Regions from separate parts of the Homo sapiens genome. Here region 2 is linked to region 1. The links come from fine-mapping of genetic effects on gene expression. Tissue or cell type: blood mononuclear cells. Region 1 holds a variant in brackets; the other region holds the start of a gene. All regions are shown on one strand. Distances are between the middles of the regions.

Region 1 (8,109 bases):
GTGTCAAGGTCATGACCAAGATGGAATTCATGTGCCCAAGTTCTTTCTATCTCCATGAAGAAGTTTTGCAACTAGAGATGAGGAAAATGGACTCAGACTGAATCTATAAAAGAGATTTTCATCAGACTATGGGAGGATAAAGATGGGACAGCAGAATCCCTGCAGCTTACTTGGAGTTTGGGCTCAGTTCTGGCTTACTTAGGGTTTGGCCAAACTTTAGTAGTCTATCAAACCTGCAGCTTACCCAGGTCACAATTGAGGTGAGCCCCAAAACTTCACAAGGAGCATTTTGAATCCATCAGTTGAATTAAACAAACAAACAAACAAACAAACCTGAAAGGTATCCCCCTATGGGCTTTGCCCTAAAGAAAATAATGGTTTGTAAGACTAGAGGTGGCATTGACTCATAATCCACCTGAGTTAACTCCCCTCACATTGACAGAAGAGGACTTCTTCATATAAAAATACTCTCGGCCAGGCGCAGTGGCTCACACCTGTAATCTCAGCACTTTAGGAGGCTGAGGAGGGTGGATCACCTAAGGGCAGGAGTTCGAGACCAGTGTGGCCAATATGGTGAAACCCCCGTCTCTACTAAAAATACAAAAATTAGCTGGGCATGGTGGCACGCACCTGTAAACCCAGCTACTTAGGAGGCTGAGGCAGAAGAATTGCTTGAACCTGGGAGGCGGAGGCTGCAGCGAGCTGAGATCGTGCCATTGCACTCCAGCCTGGGAGATAGAGTGAGACTTCATCTCAAAAAAAAAAAAAAATTCTCTATGGGAATTTTGTGTTCTCTTATCCTTAAGGGCCTGCCCATCTTAATCTATACCAGGACACAAATTTATCAACAGCTGGAGCCTGGATTTGAACCCCGGCCAATTTTTGGTGACGATCTAAAGCTTACCCTGCCTGTAGTAGAGAGGAGACAATGTTAGCATTTCTGTATTGAAGCTTTGAACCAGAGGATTGACATTAAGTTAGTCTGATACTGACCTCAACATTTCTTCAGACTGAAACTCCCAAATGAATAAAAAGACAATGCCTATGTCATTGCTCCTGTTGTTTCTGTTAGCATAACATCTTTGATGCATGTTTGCACACTTCTAGACTGTTGTCCTCTCTGGGCCATCCCAGTGGCTGAATCAATGGCAGAAGTTATCAGAGGGAGTGGCCTTCAGATTGCTGGCCAATAGAGGGAAAGAGGAGACAAGGAGAAGTCACAGATAGCAACTGCCTCTGGCACATAGCAAAACAATTTATCTTGAAATCAATGTATCAACTAGCTGCATAAATTACATAAATTATGTTCTGGTTGTCCACATCATCTTCAAAACAATAATCACAAAGATAATAATAATAATAAGAGCTAGGACTTAATCATCCAGCAGTGTCCTAAAAGTATTCATTCATTTAATCTTCATAACAACCCCATAAATACTGCTATTATCCGCATGTGAGGAAACTGAGGCACAGAGAGGTTAAGTAACTTGTCCACGTTAGGCCACTAGAATGTGGCAGAGCTCAAATACTAAAGATGCATCCTGTTGACAACATCATGTAGGTACCTGTGGTCAGCAAGGTAATGGCCCCTCAAGGATGTCCATATCTAGAATCTGTGGATATATTATATTACACGCCAAAGGAGAAATGAAGTTGTAGATGGAATTAAGCATGATAATCAGCTGACCTAAAATAAGATTAATCTGGATTTTCTGGGTAGAATCACAAGGGTTCCTTAAATGTAGAAGAGGGAGGCAGAGGAGTCAATGTCAGAGTGGTATAATGTGAGAAAACCTTGATTGGCCATTGCTGGCTTTGAAGATGGGAAGAGGCCATGAGCCCAGCAATGCAGGCAGCCTCTAGATTCTAGAAAAGTCAAGAAAATAGATTCTCCCCTAAAGCCCACAGGAAGAATGCAGCCCTGACAACACGTTAGTTTTAGTCCAGTGAGACCCATTTTGGATTTCTGACCTCCAGAACCATAAATTTCACATAATAAATCTGTGTTGTTTTAAGCCACTAAGTCTGGACTAATTTACATAGCAGCAATAAGAAACTGAGGCAGTACCTTATTCATAAGTTGCTTTGGATAACATAGAATTTTTTAAGTGAGAGCTAGAAGGCATCTTTAAAGTGGGTATAACTTAACTATTCTCACTTTAGAAGTGAACGGAAATGACTTTTCTGAAGGTTCCCCTCTCCTTGAAGCCTAAAATTACGTGATTCAAAACAAAGACCCCTATGAGTCTACTCATTTGAACGGGCATATAAATGACTTAGAAAAAATACAAGAGCATCTTGCTTATAATACTGCCTGTGTAGTAATGGATTACCTTGAGTCTAGGTTCAGCCTACACTCCTGGGAGCCTCTCAGAACTCCATCTTAGCCAGGTTCCTCCTAAGAAGGGGATGTAAGAAGGAGGCAAAATGAGGGGCCTTGGCATCACGTAGAAGTGGGCTTACATCCAGCCATGCCACTGACTGGCTCGACCTTGAAAAGCCACTTCACCTCCCTGAACCTTTTTTTTCTTTGATTCGTTGATTATAAAATCAAGTTTGATTTGCTTATAAAATCAATGGTATTCAACTCATGAATTCAAATCCAGGGTGTAGACAAAGTCTTCAATACACTTTAGTTCCCCTTCCTGTGCTTTCCTCCATTCTTCTTGAGTCACAGCCAAGGATGGTCATGCTTTTTTTCTGGTCAAGGAGTGAGAATTCTTTTTGTCTTGTGCAAACTCAAGGCAGAAAGTATCTTTATTTCACAGGAGGCTGAAAATTCACAGTAATTGGGGAATAACATTTAAGATATTTCCTTTGTTCTTTTTTTCTGTTTTACTTTCTCCTCTCTTTTACAACACAGGCACTGTTCCCTTGGCATTTGCAAATTTACTTTTTTACTTCTGCAGATGTAGGTGGATCGATTCAAGAAGAGAAACGGTAGCACAAAAGAGAAGAATTTTCCCAGTGCAGAATTCATTTCGGAAAGGAGTGTTTTTCATAATTAGCTCAACATTTGCATGTTTATGAAGTCCCAGACACTGTTCTACATATTTCACGTGGGTTAATCCATTTAATCCTCACAACACCATAAAGTAAGTACTTACATTAGTAGACAAGAAAACTATGAGGCACAGAAAAGTTAAGCAAATTATCCGAGGTCACATAGCAAAGTGGCAGTATTAACATGTGAACCTAGGCAAATGTAGCTTCAGAACGCAGGCTCTCTACCACTTCAACAGCTTATTTACCTCCTTTTCCCAGGAGCTCATTCTATAAAAATTGAGCAAGATAGATGGGAAAAACATATTAGAAGAAAATGAATCACGAAGAGCATCTGAAATAGGTATGGGCTGGGCACGGTGGCTCACGCCTGTAATCCCAGCACTTTGGGAGGCCATGGTGAGCATATTGCTTGAGCTCAGGAGTTCAAGACAGCCTGGGCAACATAGTGAAACCCTGTCTCAACAAAAAATATTAATAAAAGAATTAGCTGGGTGTGGTGGGTTGGGAGGCTGAGGCGGGAGGATGGCTTGAGCCCAGGAGGTGGAGGTAGAAGTGAGCCAAGATGGCACCACTGCACTCCAGCCTGGGTGACAGAGTCAGACCCCGTCTCAAGAGAAAAAAAATAAAAGTTAAAGGAAAAAAACCAGTCTCCAACTGATTTGATAAGAGATCAAATGACCCCACTTCATTTTAAAAATTTAGAAAATAAAAAAGAGAAATAGGTATGGAGCTTACACCATTGAAATCTGATGCTGTTTTCAAATATCCATAATAAAAACACTAATGTCTTAAATATGGGGAGGTAACTCAGTCTAACCAGCCTTGTTTTTCTAAGTAATGGCGTCAGAAAGCCAACTAAGAGTCCTGAGAAAGGGTTTGGGGTTTGCTATTCGTTCCCAGTGCTAAAATTCCTTGACCAAAAACAATCTCAAGATTTCCAAGGGTGGCCAAAATATCAAGCCTGCTTTCTCTGAGGGAGGAAATATTTCCATTTCACGGAGATGAAGTGGACATTTTCTCAGTTGAGTGTTTGATAGTGTTTCTTTACTGGAAATAACTACACGTCTTCTTTGAGAACCACACTTCTAGGTTTTTTTGTTTTGTTTTGAGACGGAGTCTTGCTCTGTTGCCCAGGCTCTGGAGTGCAGTGGCGATCTCGGCTCACTGCAAGCTCCGCCTCCCGGGTTCACACCATTGTCCTGCTTCAGCCTCCAGAGTAGCTGGGACTACAGGTGCCCACCACCATGCCCGGATAATTTTTTGTATTTTTAGTAGAGACGGGGTTTCACCGTGTTAGCCAGGCTGGTCTCGATCTCCTGACCTCGTGATCCGCCCGCCTCGGCCTCCCAGAGTGCTGGGATTACAGGCGTGAGCCACCGCCCGGCCTTTTTTTTTTTTTTAATCTAAAATAAGGCCACTAGTACTACTTCCTTCCTCCCCTTTCAATGCTAAAGGAGAAGAGATCAACTCATTTAGTTCTCTAACTTACCTAGAAGCTGAGCTAGGATTCGAATCCAGTTCCC[T/C]AACTCCTCTTCTGGTTCTCCTGCCACTCAGCCACATGGATTTCTTTCTCTTACACACAGGCTCTTTTTGGCCACGGTAAACACACTGACCTTTGAAATATGGAAAGAAAAGCGCTTTGAAATAAAACTGGCACAAACAGCAGTCAGACAGCCGTCATCTGGAGGCTGAAACAAAGAGGAGCATAGTTTTCAAGCTGTCTTCGTAATTACACGAAGCAGTTATCACTCAGGCCCCAGTCTGCGCATTGCCCCCCAAACAAACAGCCGAGGGCTGAGAGAGCACATAGGCCACTTTGTTGCGCCAGCATACTGGGGAGTGGAGAGCCCCCCAGCTAAAATCACATGTGGCTTGGAGTGTTTTCCAGGACTTCAGGCTTTTTCCTTTCTTCCTTCCCCATTAAACCCCTCTGCTCTTCTTGGCAAAGGCCTTCAGGTGAGGTAAGCGCCAATTAACAACAAAGAGCTTGATGTATTTCAAGTTTATGGCTTAGAGCTGTGTTCTCATGAAATATATTCTCCTCTGGTCCAGAAGCCTTGATGGGCAGAGAGCAAGAATTCTGAGTGTGGTTGAAATTTGGTTCATTTTTGCTACTGCCCTAAAAGTGATTTCCCTTTTGGGGGTTTGCTCAAATAGAAAGCAACGAAAACAAACCCAGAAAAGGGCAAAACCAATTCTGAAAACTTCAGCTGCAAAGATAACTGGAGCAGAAGGCTCAGCAAATTGGGTTTTTTGGGGAAAAAAAAATGGCCTTAAATTTCTTATGGGTTCTTTGGAAATAAATATAGCCAGACTTTGGAATGAGTAGGAGGGATGAGAATATCCAATCCAAAGGATCTCTAAAGCCTTTTCCAGCTTCCAAATTTGGATTTGATTTTTCTATCCTGGGAATGGTTTTAATCATGTTACAATCATTTGAGCGTTATCACGTCAATTTATAAAAAATATTTTTGTGAATTGTTTTTAGGCTACAGTGATATGAGATCTGACCAATAAAATGATCTCATTGGACATCTCAGAGCCCTTAAAGAGCAAGAGGTTTGGCAATAGGAATATAAATAGGTTAAAATATATTCCAAAACAATTCCTCTAATCATTAATTGTACTCCATTGTTTAATATTTTCAGAGCCTACTGAATTTAGCAAAGGGAAAGACAGATGCATATTAAAATGCATGCAAATGCTACACACAAGCCACATTTTAATATATTGTTTTGCATTCATAATTTTAGTCTTGTGATTTGTATTTTCATTTGCTTGGGAACAAAGACTTTCTTTTTTCCGCACTTGGGAAACAAGGCAAGACTTGTTTCTGCCAGCATCTTAATAGTATTCCTGAAAAAGCAGCAAACTTAATGGTTCAGGAACTACTCTCCACCACCTGCTTACTGGCCTCTAACAGGGGCTGCATTTACAATGCATTGAAAAGGTGAAAATACGCAATCAATCAGTTGCTTTGTTGCAGAATGGTGAGCAATCATATTTTTGTTGTATTAAAACTGAACAGAATCATTTTTTTAAAAAAATGTAAACTGCTTAAACGTACAGCCTCTTTTCAGCTACAGGGAGTGGCAGAGTGACTTGTGCATTCACCAAATTTCATTCCTTTTTAATCTGGGGACACATACAGACCGTATTGCTCAGCTTCCTTTTCAATTAGGTGATTTCTGGCAATGGAATGTGGGGCAAAATAATGCTTACAATCTCCATTCAAGTCTAGCCCCTTGAATCTATGGTGCATTTCCCTATACTTGTGCTTTTCCCGTGCTCCTGACCTTCTGGCAAGATACAGAGGATCAGGTGGAGAGCATCAAGGGCACTAGAGGAGCCTCTTGATGATGGGAGGCTGGGTTTTCAAATAAAAAGCATGGAACAGAATCTCTGACCCATCTGTCTCCTTTGACCAATGACTCACAAAAAACTATGACTCTCAATCACTGTGTGGTAGTTAGTCTCTAATGGTCCCTATCTGCTGTATTCATACCCTTGTGTGTCCACCTCCTACATGCTACCAGGATCTGTGTGACCAATGACATATGGTAGAAATGATGGGATGTTACTTCCAAGATTGAGCTATAAAAGACTGCAGTTTCCATCTTGGGTGCTTTCTCATTCGTTCTCTCTCTTGGATTACTCTCTCTGGGGGAAGCCAGCTGTCATGTTTTGAGGTCACTCTAACAGCCTGTGGAGATGCTCACATGGTGAGGAATAGGGACCTGCCTCCAACAGCCAGCAAGAAATTGAGGCTTGCCAATAATCAGGTGAGGAAGCTCGGAAAAAAATTCTCCAGCCTAGTTGATCCTGTAGCTCCAGTAAATAGTTTGAGTACCACTTTGTGAGAAACATTGAGCTAGAATTACCTAGTTAAACTGCTCCTGGATTCTTGACCCCCAGAAACTGTGTGAGATAAATGTTTGTTGTTTTAAGTAGCTAAGTTTTAGGGTAATTTGTTACACAGCAATAAATAGTACATAACTATGAACAGGACTGTAAGGTTCAAAGGGTGAAGACTTTGGTTTATTCTTGAAATTTCACCGCCTAATGAAGTGCCTGGATGAGAGCAGGCTTGAATAAACAATGAATGTGGTTTTCAGTAAGATTAATAGTGTGGTTCTTTACATATGATGTGCAAAGTCAACATGTTAGAGCAGCTACCACTTTAAGGCTAGACAGTGAGGTTACTACATATCTCATCCTGGAAGATGGAATCAACTGCACCTAGATTCAGAAAAATCTAGAATCACATTTCTATCAAATGCATAGATAACAGTTTCCAAAACGTTTGTATAAAGAAGAGAAAAACTCAGCTATCTAGTTCTGTTTGTGTGTTCAGATTATCACGCTTATGCTTGTACAGACTAGGTTCTCTTCTAATAGCTACACATGTTAATTTATTTAATCCTTACAACAATCCAGTAAAGAGCATGTTGTTATTCTTCTGATTTTAATGATGAGGAAACAATATGCTCTGGACTTGCATATTCCTAGGATCTTGAAGTTACCCATTATACTCCATTGCCCTCTCATTTTAACTCATCAAAGAGAACAGAGCTGAAAAGTACAGGAAAGGGTCACTGAATGGATGAAGTGGATGAAGAGATAGCCCTGTAAGAACAGAAAAGAATAATTAAAACTTTTAGATTTGACAAACCCAGGAAGCACTATGATCAAAATTTATGAAATCCTGAAGGAAATGCATTTATTTACCCAAACTGATACACATCACAGGAATGGGGCCCGCCTTGATGTTTATTAGAGATCATTTAGGAGAACCTGAATGCATGCTGCTTCCAAATGATGGGATATACGTTCTGCCTTCATTCCAGCTGCTTAGAGACAAGACCCACCATCCCAGAGACTGCAGTGAAGAGGAAAAGAATATCCCAAACCACAGGCAACCACCTCCTTGTGGCGCAGCCAAGAGCGGTGTGCTTGGCCTCCCTGCTAATTAGCAAAAACCCTCACCAATTCCTTCCAATGCTTGAAAATCAATGCTAGCCTAAAAAAAAAAAAAAAAAAAATCAGAACTGGGCCAAAGAAGCACTGGGAATGAGTAGACATCTCTGTGTCTGCCTCTCCTGA
Region 2 (8,109 bases), 75 kb after region 1:
TAATTTTTGAGAATGAAGAGGTCAGTGGCTCTAAGCAGACAGGGCACTAGGGCAACTGGCATAAATCAGGATTGTTCTGGGCAAAAGAAGATGTATGTCCCTCCCCACTTCCATTTAACATCTCCACAGTGTCCTGCACACTTTAGACACCATTTGAATATTGGCTTATGTGAACTTAAGTCACTTCCTATTGAAAAAGTATTTCAAGCTTCACTAAAGTCGCAATTCCATTGCTTTGTCCACAACAACTGGTTGTCCCTGTTGACCCATTGCAAGAAAAATTGCAGATCAAGTCCAGAACTAAAGATACTTCTTACTTCTAGCCTTAGAAAGAAGACTCTGAGGCTACTAATAAATGCCATACTGTTTCCCTGATTCCTTAGATTCGAATAGTTCCTATTGACATCTGAAACATGAGAAGATCCTTTAGAGAACCTCAGACTTAGAATTCTGGTTTATACACATGACACATTAAGAGAAAACTAACCTACAGTGGCATTATGGCATCAACAATCAGATAGCAAATGTAGTCTGACAAAGATTTATCCCGGCACGTACTGAATTTTAGAAATACGTTCCTTTTTTCAGGATTTTGGAAATCCTAGAAAAGACCAGGATTTGGAGTCAGAACACCTATGTTTGAATCCTAACCTCCATTACTCCTTCTCTTCAAATAAAATCTCATCTGAAAATCAGGGATAATCATAGTACCTCTATCTGTAGAGCCTTTGGGAGAATTAAATGAGATAATGTATGTGAAAGTGTTCCAAACACCAAAGCTCTGTATGAATGCATATTCTCCTTTTCATTCACTATTTAAATCAACTCTTAATTCTATCTCTCTCAAGCAGCCTGAGGCTGGGTCACCAGAACACAAATGTACAGTTACAAGGCTAAAAAAAAAACCAAAAAGCAAAACAACTCATTGTTACATGATCCTTGACAACAGTTGGACAGACTTTTTCTTAAATCAAATGAAGTGTTTTGGCAGCCTGTAAGTGTAGCCTAAAGTATAGCAAGAAAAGAGAATTATTTTCCTTAGGGAGAGTAATTTTAACAGAAGTTCAACTTACACATTTTTAATATCTGTACTTCGAATGTACTGCTAAATGCAAAATGAATATAATTAGTTATGAGATATCTTGCCCTCGGCTACAGTACCCATTAAGCTTCAGCATAATATATAATTCACAACCTATTCATACTCTGTGGTACATTTCAGGACTTCCTATACTGTAGTCTCTTAAAGCAAATAGTGTATATAGTTTCAGAACCTAACAGTTGTTCCTTCATAAGGGTTAGGAGTGGATGCAGCATATCTGTGGTCTTCAAATAATTTAGCCAGTCATAAAAATTTATTATGTACAGGCACTATACCTTTTCATGTATAGGTCACTAGCATGTAAATGAAACTGGCACAACAAGGTAAATGTGTATAAAATACATCACAGAAGAGATAGATTTCTCTGATGAGCTATTTCAGTGATGCAGTAGATAGCAAATGATGATTTTGGAGTATTTTAGAGCCCCAATGTAGAATTTTCAATTTCCCCAGTTTATCCTCCAGAAATTATCACTGTGATATACCTGTGATTGCTGAAAGGCTATCGTACATCTGTAAATGGGCATGCCATTCCTGGTACCTTCTAACTTTGTGATCACTGTCCCCATGCATAAAATATGGAGTCCTGCAGAGCAGCTAGAGAAAGGGTAAGTAGCTCAGAGTCTGTATCAATGGGGAGCTGTTTAAAAATTGATGTTATCAAGTAGGTTCACACATTAAACACCCAGAAAATGTTGGGCCTCCTCCTATGTGGTTTTCCTGAATTCTTGATGCAACCTAGAAGAACTAACGTTAAAAAGTAAAGAGCACAGTACAGACAGTAAGAGTTCTGTTTGTGAAGACTAATACAGGAAGTGATGCTATGTCTGATTCTAGAATATGGTTAGAGTTTCACAGACAAGAAACAAGATCTGTAACTTGATAATTATGTAAATACAGACCTATGTGCAATCAGTCTAGAAGCTCCCTGAAGGCAGGGATGGGTTACCCATATTTTGTCTAACACTTCTTTACATTCTTCTAAGGTGCGTCTTGGACACAATAATCATTGTGAACATACTTGATAACATCAAGTATTAAATTGGGGAAATCAAAAAATACTCCAAAATCATCATTTGCTATCTACTGCATTACTGAAATATCTCATCAGAACTCTCTTTTCTGTGATTTATTTTATACACATTTACCTTGTTGTGCCAGTTTCATTTACATGCTAGTGGCCTATACATAAAAAGGTGTAGTAAGTGTTTTTTATCTAGTTGAAAAGGCTTTAAAAAAGACTTTTGTAACTTGTAACTTTTTCACTGGTTAAGTAGCATCTTAGGAAACAGGGAGAAAGCATTTCAGTTCATTATTCTTCTTCATTTACTGAGTAAAAACCATATGCCAAGTACCATACCCCTGGAGAGGGTATAAGGAGTCTGAGTGTATTACAGCTCTTACCCCCAAGAAACCACAGCAGTGTGGCTAAGTGGAAACTCAAACAAAACAGCATATCAGTTGACAAAAATTTACACATATACATTAGATTCATCGTTGCTGGATATTATAAACCATTCCTGCCATAGTTGTGAAGGACCTATTTGATCTATAGGTCTAAAATGAACCTGTTTGATATCAGAAGCATATGGCAGTAATTGACTTTCAACAATTGACTTTCCAAATTATCTATACCTAAATAATCCCAGAAAAATTATTCAATTTCAGTTATTTCAATTCAGTAGTTTGTTAGGTAGCTGAATTCTTTTTCAGTTTATGGTTGTGGTTTGTGGGTCCAGCCTACAAGAGCTTAACTAAATCTCTAAAACTCCAACATGATTATATGAGTGTATATATACACACATAAATATATGAATATATGTAATTTATATGCATATGCACACACATATATCTGAAACTTGAAATATACCATTTTTGTTCTCTCACTGTCGAATTATGAAGCACAGATCTAATGGTCAGGCTTTTCACCCAGACTACTATAGCCAGCTGTCTTTAGGAGAGTGTGGCTGAGTCCTTGTTATGCAGACAAGAAAAGGAATATTTGAAAGTGCAATGGCCCTGCAAGTGCTCAGATATTCATTGCACACCATGATGATTACATCTGAGAATCTGTTCCTCCTTTATTCTATTTTTTCTTAAGAAATGGTCTTCTCTTTAGGAATGAATATGTGGAAGCAAAATGACTAGTTTATAACAGGCAGTACTCAAAAATGTTGTGAGTACAATGCAGAAACCTAACAGTGAAATTGCAAACTGAGAAAAGGAATCAAACAAGGGCAGAAAACAAGCGTTAAGGCTCGAGAATAAATTACGCATAGGACAAATTGGTACTCATTTTGAGAAGGAGAGGAGAGGTGAATTTAAACAGTCAAGTAATAAAAAGTCATTGTTCGGTAGAGGCTGTCTAGTGTAATGTTTAACAGCATGGACTGTATCCCAAGAATTGAGTCTGAAACCTGAATCTCCCACATACGAGTTCTGTGACATTGAGCCAGATCTTAAAGTCTCTAAATTTCTCTTTTGTTTTGTTTTGTTTTGCATGTAGGGAGAGGAGTATATACTTCCTAAGGTTGTGAAAAGGATGGTTCATAATAAAAGTATGTAGCGTTATTGAGTACATACTATGTGTAGGAATGTTACATGAATAAATTTATGAACCTTCATATTAACCCAATCTGGCAAGTACCTGCACTATTATCACTATTCCTATTTAGTATTTAAGAAAACTCAGGTTTGACTGGATTAGGTGACTTGTCCAAAGGGATACAGTTCAGATTTTTTTTGTTTTTGTTTTTGTTTTATGTAGCATAGAGACTTTTTTCAACTTTTAGATTCAGTGGGTATACATGCAGGTTTGTTACCTGGGTATATTTCATGATTAAAGCTGAGGTTTGAACATGGCAGAGTGATTCTAAAGCCCGTGGTTAAAGGACTATGCTGTCATATTGGCATGTAAAGTGCTTATCATAGCTTAGCATAGAGTAAGGCTTCCACATGCAAATCAAAAGAGAAACATTAAACATTAGCTGAAGAGGAAAACCAAATCACCCACCAGGAGGAAATTGACCTGGCCCTTTCTCCCAAGTGTATCACATGATATGATGTGTGCAGGTGTCAGATGATGCTGAGATGGCCGACAGAGCTCAATTCAGAAACAAGTGATGAGCTCCTTAACAAATTCCCTCAGGAGAGAACTGCCTCCCCTCCCCTTTCAAACGAGGCTGACCTTGAAGTTGTGCCTAAATTGCTCACCACAATCTCAGGCTCAACTTGCTAACTCATCTATCCAAAACACATGCATCCCCGACTTCTCCCTATTTCATGGGGTATCAAAAATAGAGACTTGAACCTCATAAAGTTAGTACAGGCCGGGGTGTTCACCATCTTCATAGCTGATTTACAGTTGCTTTATTAAACTGCCTCTGATCTGGTCAGCAGGCTATGAATGTGAACACCTAGTTAGAGCTGACCTTGAATCCCATTGGAACAGTAGACTTCTTTATTACATTTGAAAACCTAAAAATGTTCAAGGGGAGGTGGAAGGGAGGAGAGGCAGGCAGAGGGTGCTAGGTGCTTTGTTCAACCACCATGGTTCCCTCTGTCGAGATGGAAGATGGCTGTTGCTTAAAGCTTCTGCCCATCTTTGTCCTCTGGAAATATTTGTATTATACAAATCAAAGAATGGAACGCACCTGCCTCCTCCTCATTCTTCTCCCCTCCCCGACACTGGAATGAATGCATACTCTTCACACAGGACCCACAGGAAACCTGTTACCCCAAGTAACTGTTGCATTCTCATGTGTTCAGTCACAGGAAGAATTTCAGTTTCTCTCTTCCCCACGATTGGAGATGAGGCTGAGGTCACGGGAGAGAAAGAGCCCTGTCTTGTCTCCCAACAAGAGGGGTCTGTGCAGCTGCTGGGCCCACAGCAGACAGAAGGCACGCGGCAGCTGAGGCTCTTTAGAAGGCTTCCCACCCACTTCCTGAGTCTGGCTTTGATTTCTTAAAGGGCAGATGCACTTATTCCAGAGTCGCTCCCTGATTCAGCTGTCGGGGGGAGGGTGGAATAAAAAGCTAAAGCAACCATTTCCTTTTCTGTAGCTCCTTTGCTTTGTCTCAGATCCTCTTTTCTGAGTTATCTGCTACTAAGTCTGTCTCTCCTTCCGCTCAGAGCAGCAGTGGCTGAGTTTTGTCGAGTGCTAGATAATCACTGATCTTAATTATAAACAGCCTCAGCTCAGAGGAATGGTTTTGATAGGAAAGTCAACACCAGGACGCAAGATGGGTAGGTAGCAAAATGGAACCCAAGCCAGTTTTCCAATAAAAAACAGACAAAATATATTTATAAGTAAGATTCAATTCATCCTCCACGCAGTAGCAGCCTGGAGGCTCCTTGTGAACTGACCTCTGTCTACTGTCCCCTTTAAACTTTTTTTTTTTTGATACGGAGTCTCACTCTGTCGCCCAGGCTGAAGTGCAGTGGTACAATCTCGCCTCCCTACAACCTCCACTTCCTGGGGTCAAGCAATTCTCCCGCCTCGGCCTCCCGAGTAGCTGGGATTACAAGCACGCATCACCACGCCTGGCTAATTTTTTTTGTATTTTTAGTGGAGACGGGGTTTCGCCATGTTAGCCAGGCTGGTCTCGAACTCCTGACCTCAAGTGATCCGCCTGCCTCGGCCCCCCAAAGTGCTGGGATTACAGGCTTGAGCCACCATGCCTGGCCACCCCTTTAAATTTTATGCTTCAGTAATAGTGTTGATTTTACCTCCAAAATACAGAGCTGTTTCATGCTTCTGTGCCTTTGTGGACTCTTCCCTCTGCCAGAAATGCCTTCTTACTGTGTCTTCCTGGAAATATCTTATTTGACTTTTAAAAACTGGTGCAGACATCACCGCTTCATCTCCCTCCAGTGTTTTTCATTTAATTGGTCTGGGATGTGGCCTGAGCCCTGGGAGTTTTAAGTGCTCCCCAGGTGATTCTAATCTGCACCAGAGTTTGCCAATCACTGCTTAAGGCCAGCAGTTTTCAGACTTGAGCAGGCATCAGAAACAGCTGGAGGGCTTGTTAAGGCACAGATTGCAGGGTCCACCCCCTGAGTGTAGAATTCAGTAGCTCTGGAGAATTTGTATTTCTTTCTTATTTTGTTTTCTCTTTTGTTTTGTTTTGTTTTGTTTTGTTTTACTTTTATGTTTTTGGATCTTGTTGCATACCAAGTTTTTTTTGTTGTTGTTTTTTGTTTTTTAAGGGATTTGCTGATGTTTTTACTATTAGTATTCACATTATTTCCTTTTTTAAAAAAATTTATTTAAAACAGACAAAAATTTTATCTATTTATGGTGTACAACAATGTTTTAATATAGGTACACATTGTGGAATGGCTACATCAAGCTAACTAATATACGCATTACCTTACATGCATGTCATTTTATTTTATTTATTTATTTATTTATTTATTTATTTTTTGCAGTGAGAATTTGCCTTTCTAACAAGTTCCCAGATAAGGCTGATTCTGCTGGTCCTGGGATCAGGTTTTGAGAATCAATGCTCTATTCAAACTCGCTAGCTTGCACAGGTTCCTTACATTGCACTTGTCACCCTGCATTGTCATCCACTTATTTGCATGCCTATTTCTGTCTTTTGAAGGTAAGGACTTTAGCTTTTTTATCACATTACAGAGCACTGCACCTGGTGTATAGTAGATGCTCAACACATGATCACTTAATGAGTAAATATTCAGGGTCTAGTTGTCACAGAGAAAGAAAGTCATGTACAAAATTTATGTCAACTTTTAAACATAAATTATTTAATCCAATAAATATCCCATGCCTCTAAATTTAAATCTAGAAAGGAGTTCTCTAAGCCTCTATGAATGACATCTTGGATTTTGGTGACAGGATTGTGTTGGCAAAGTACTCCTCAGTACACGAGGATAAAAAGGCCCTGTGCAAAAGCAGATTGGATTACATTTACAACAACAACACCTCTTTTTAAACTGACATTTAATGATTATCTCTATCAATAAAGGCCTTTTAAGAGCTCTCCATAAAATGTTGTGAAAAATGAGAACATTTAAAATACAGACAAACAATGGGCCCCATTCATACAGCTTCTTCACATTATTTCTCCTGTATCATGGATCTCAACCAGGCTCACTCACCCTTCTCCAGTGAAGTTGGCACATGTTAACCATATTGATCGTCTGATTACAAATGTAGACTGTGGCAGGGAGTATTTACAAAAGGAACCCATTTGTCCCTGTTACTTGTATGTAGATATCGGACTTAATACACACTCAACTACAAAGCAATAGAACCAGGTAGTAAAATGTTACTCCCAAGGAGATTAGACTCCTATACAGAAAAATGATTTCATTGTTTCATATAACCATATAAAGTAAGTCCAAAGAGATGTTTTTAAAAGTTTCCTAATCCTTACTAATTTCTTAAATACCTACTCCTCAAGAAGAATAAATTCTCTCTCTATTCATTGATCCATAGAATATTTCTAAAAACCTAATAATGTGTTGGCATAGGTCTTTCTGAACCCAAAACCCAGACCTATGTCTTTCTGAACAAAATATGTGATATTGTGTGTGTGTGTGTGCGTGTTGCTTGCTGTCCATTTCAGCAGCCTTCTACTTTGATGACAACCTGATTATTCTGGAAAAAAGCAGTTGCTGTCCTTAGTGGTGCAGCATGTAGTTATTTGGAATTTCAGTAGTATCCAGGTAACATTTTTCATTGAGTCAGTGGGGAAACAGAAGATGAGAAACTCACCCTTCTGAGTTTCTGGTCAATATTTCTTGATTGGAGCTCTGGGTCTCTGGGTCCTCTCTAATTGTTACCTAGAGACTGGATCTTTAGATTATAAAAATATCAAAATACCTGGATATTGACTTTTTGAATTCAGTATATTGCAATTGAATTCCACTTCAACAATAGCAGGTGGCCAATGGGTTGAGTATGATCGAATCAGGAATGAAAGATTCTGTAGACTGTACCTTTCTTTTCAAAAATAAAATTTTGAAAAGTACAGATTTGCCT

What was found. PIP is the estimated chance that this variant, and not a neighbour inherited with it, causes the effect.
Region 2: it holds the start of LINC02391, and the variant in region 1 is fine-mapped to the expression of LINC02391 in blood mononuclear cells (TOPMed, PIP above 0.99).

What each region holds. Positions count from the first base shown.
Region 1 is chr12:92,283,989-92,292,097 of GRCh38, forward strand. The region is part of intron 2 of LINC02391 (long intergenic non-protein coding RNA 2391); the gene reads right to left. Among named protein-coding and RNA genes, the nearest start is that of LINC02391, 76 kb to the right of the region's middle. The variant T/C (reference allele first, on the strand shown) is at 4,530.
Region 2 is chr12:92,358,836-92,366,944 of GRCh38, forward strand. It overlaps LINC02391 (long intergenic non-protein coding RNA 2391), which reads right to left and starts at 4,997. Exons shown (of 5, transcript XR_007063404.1): 1 at 4,756-4,997. All of the region lies in intron 1 of LOC105369902 (a long non-coding RNA gene), which reads left to right. RefSeq lists enhancers at 3,980-4,069, 4,550-4,599.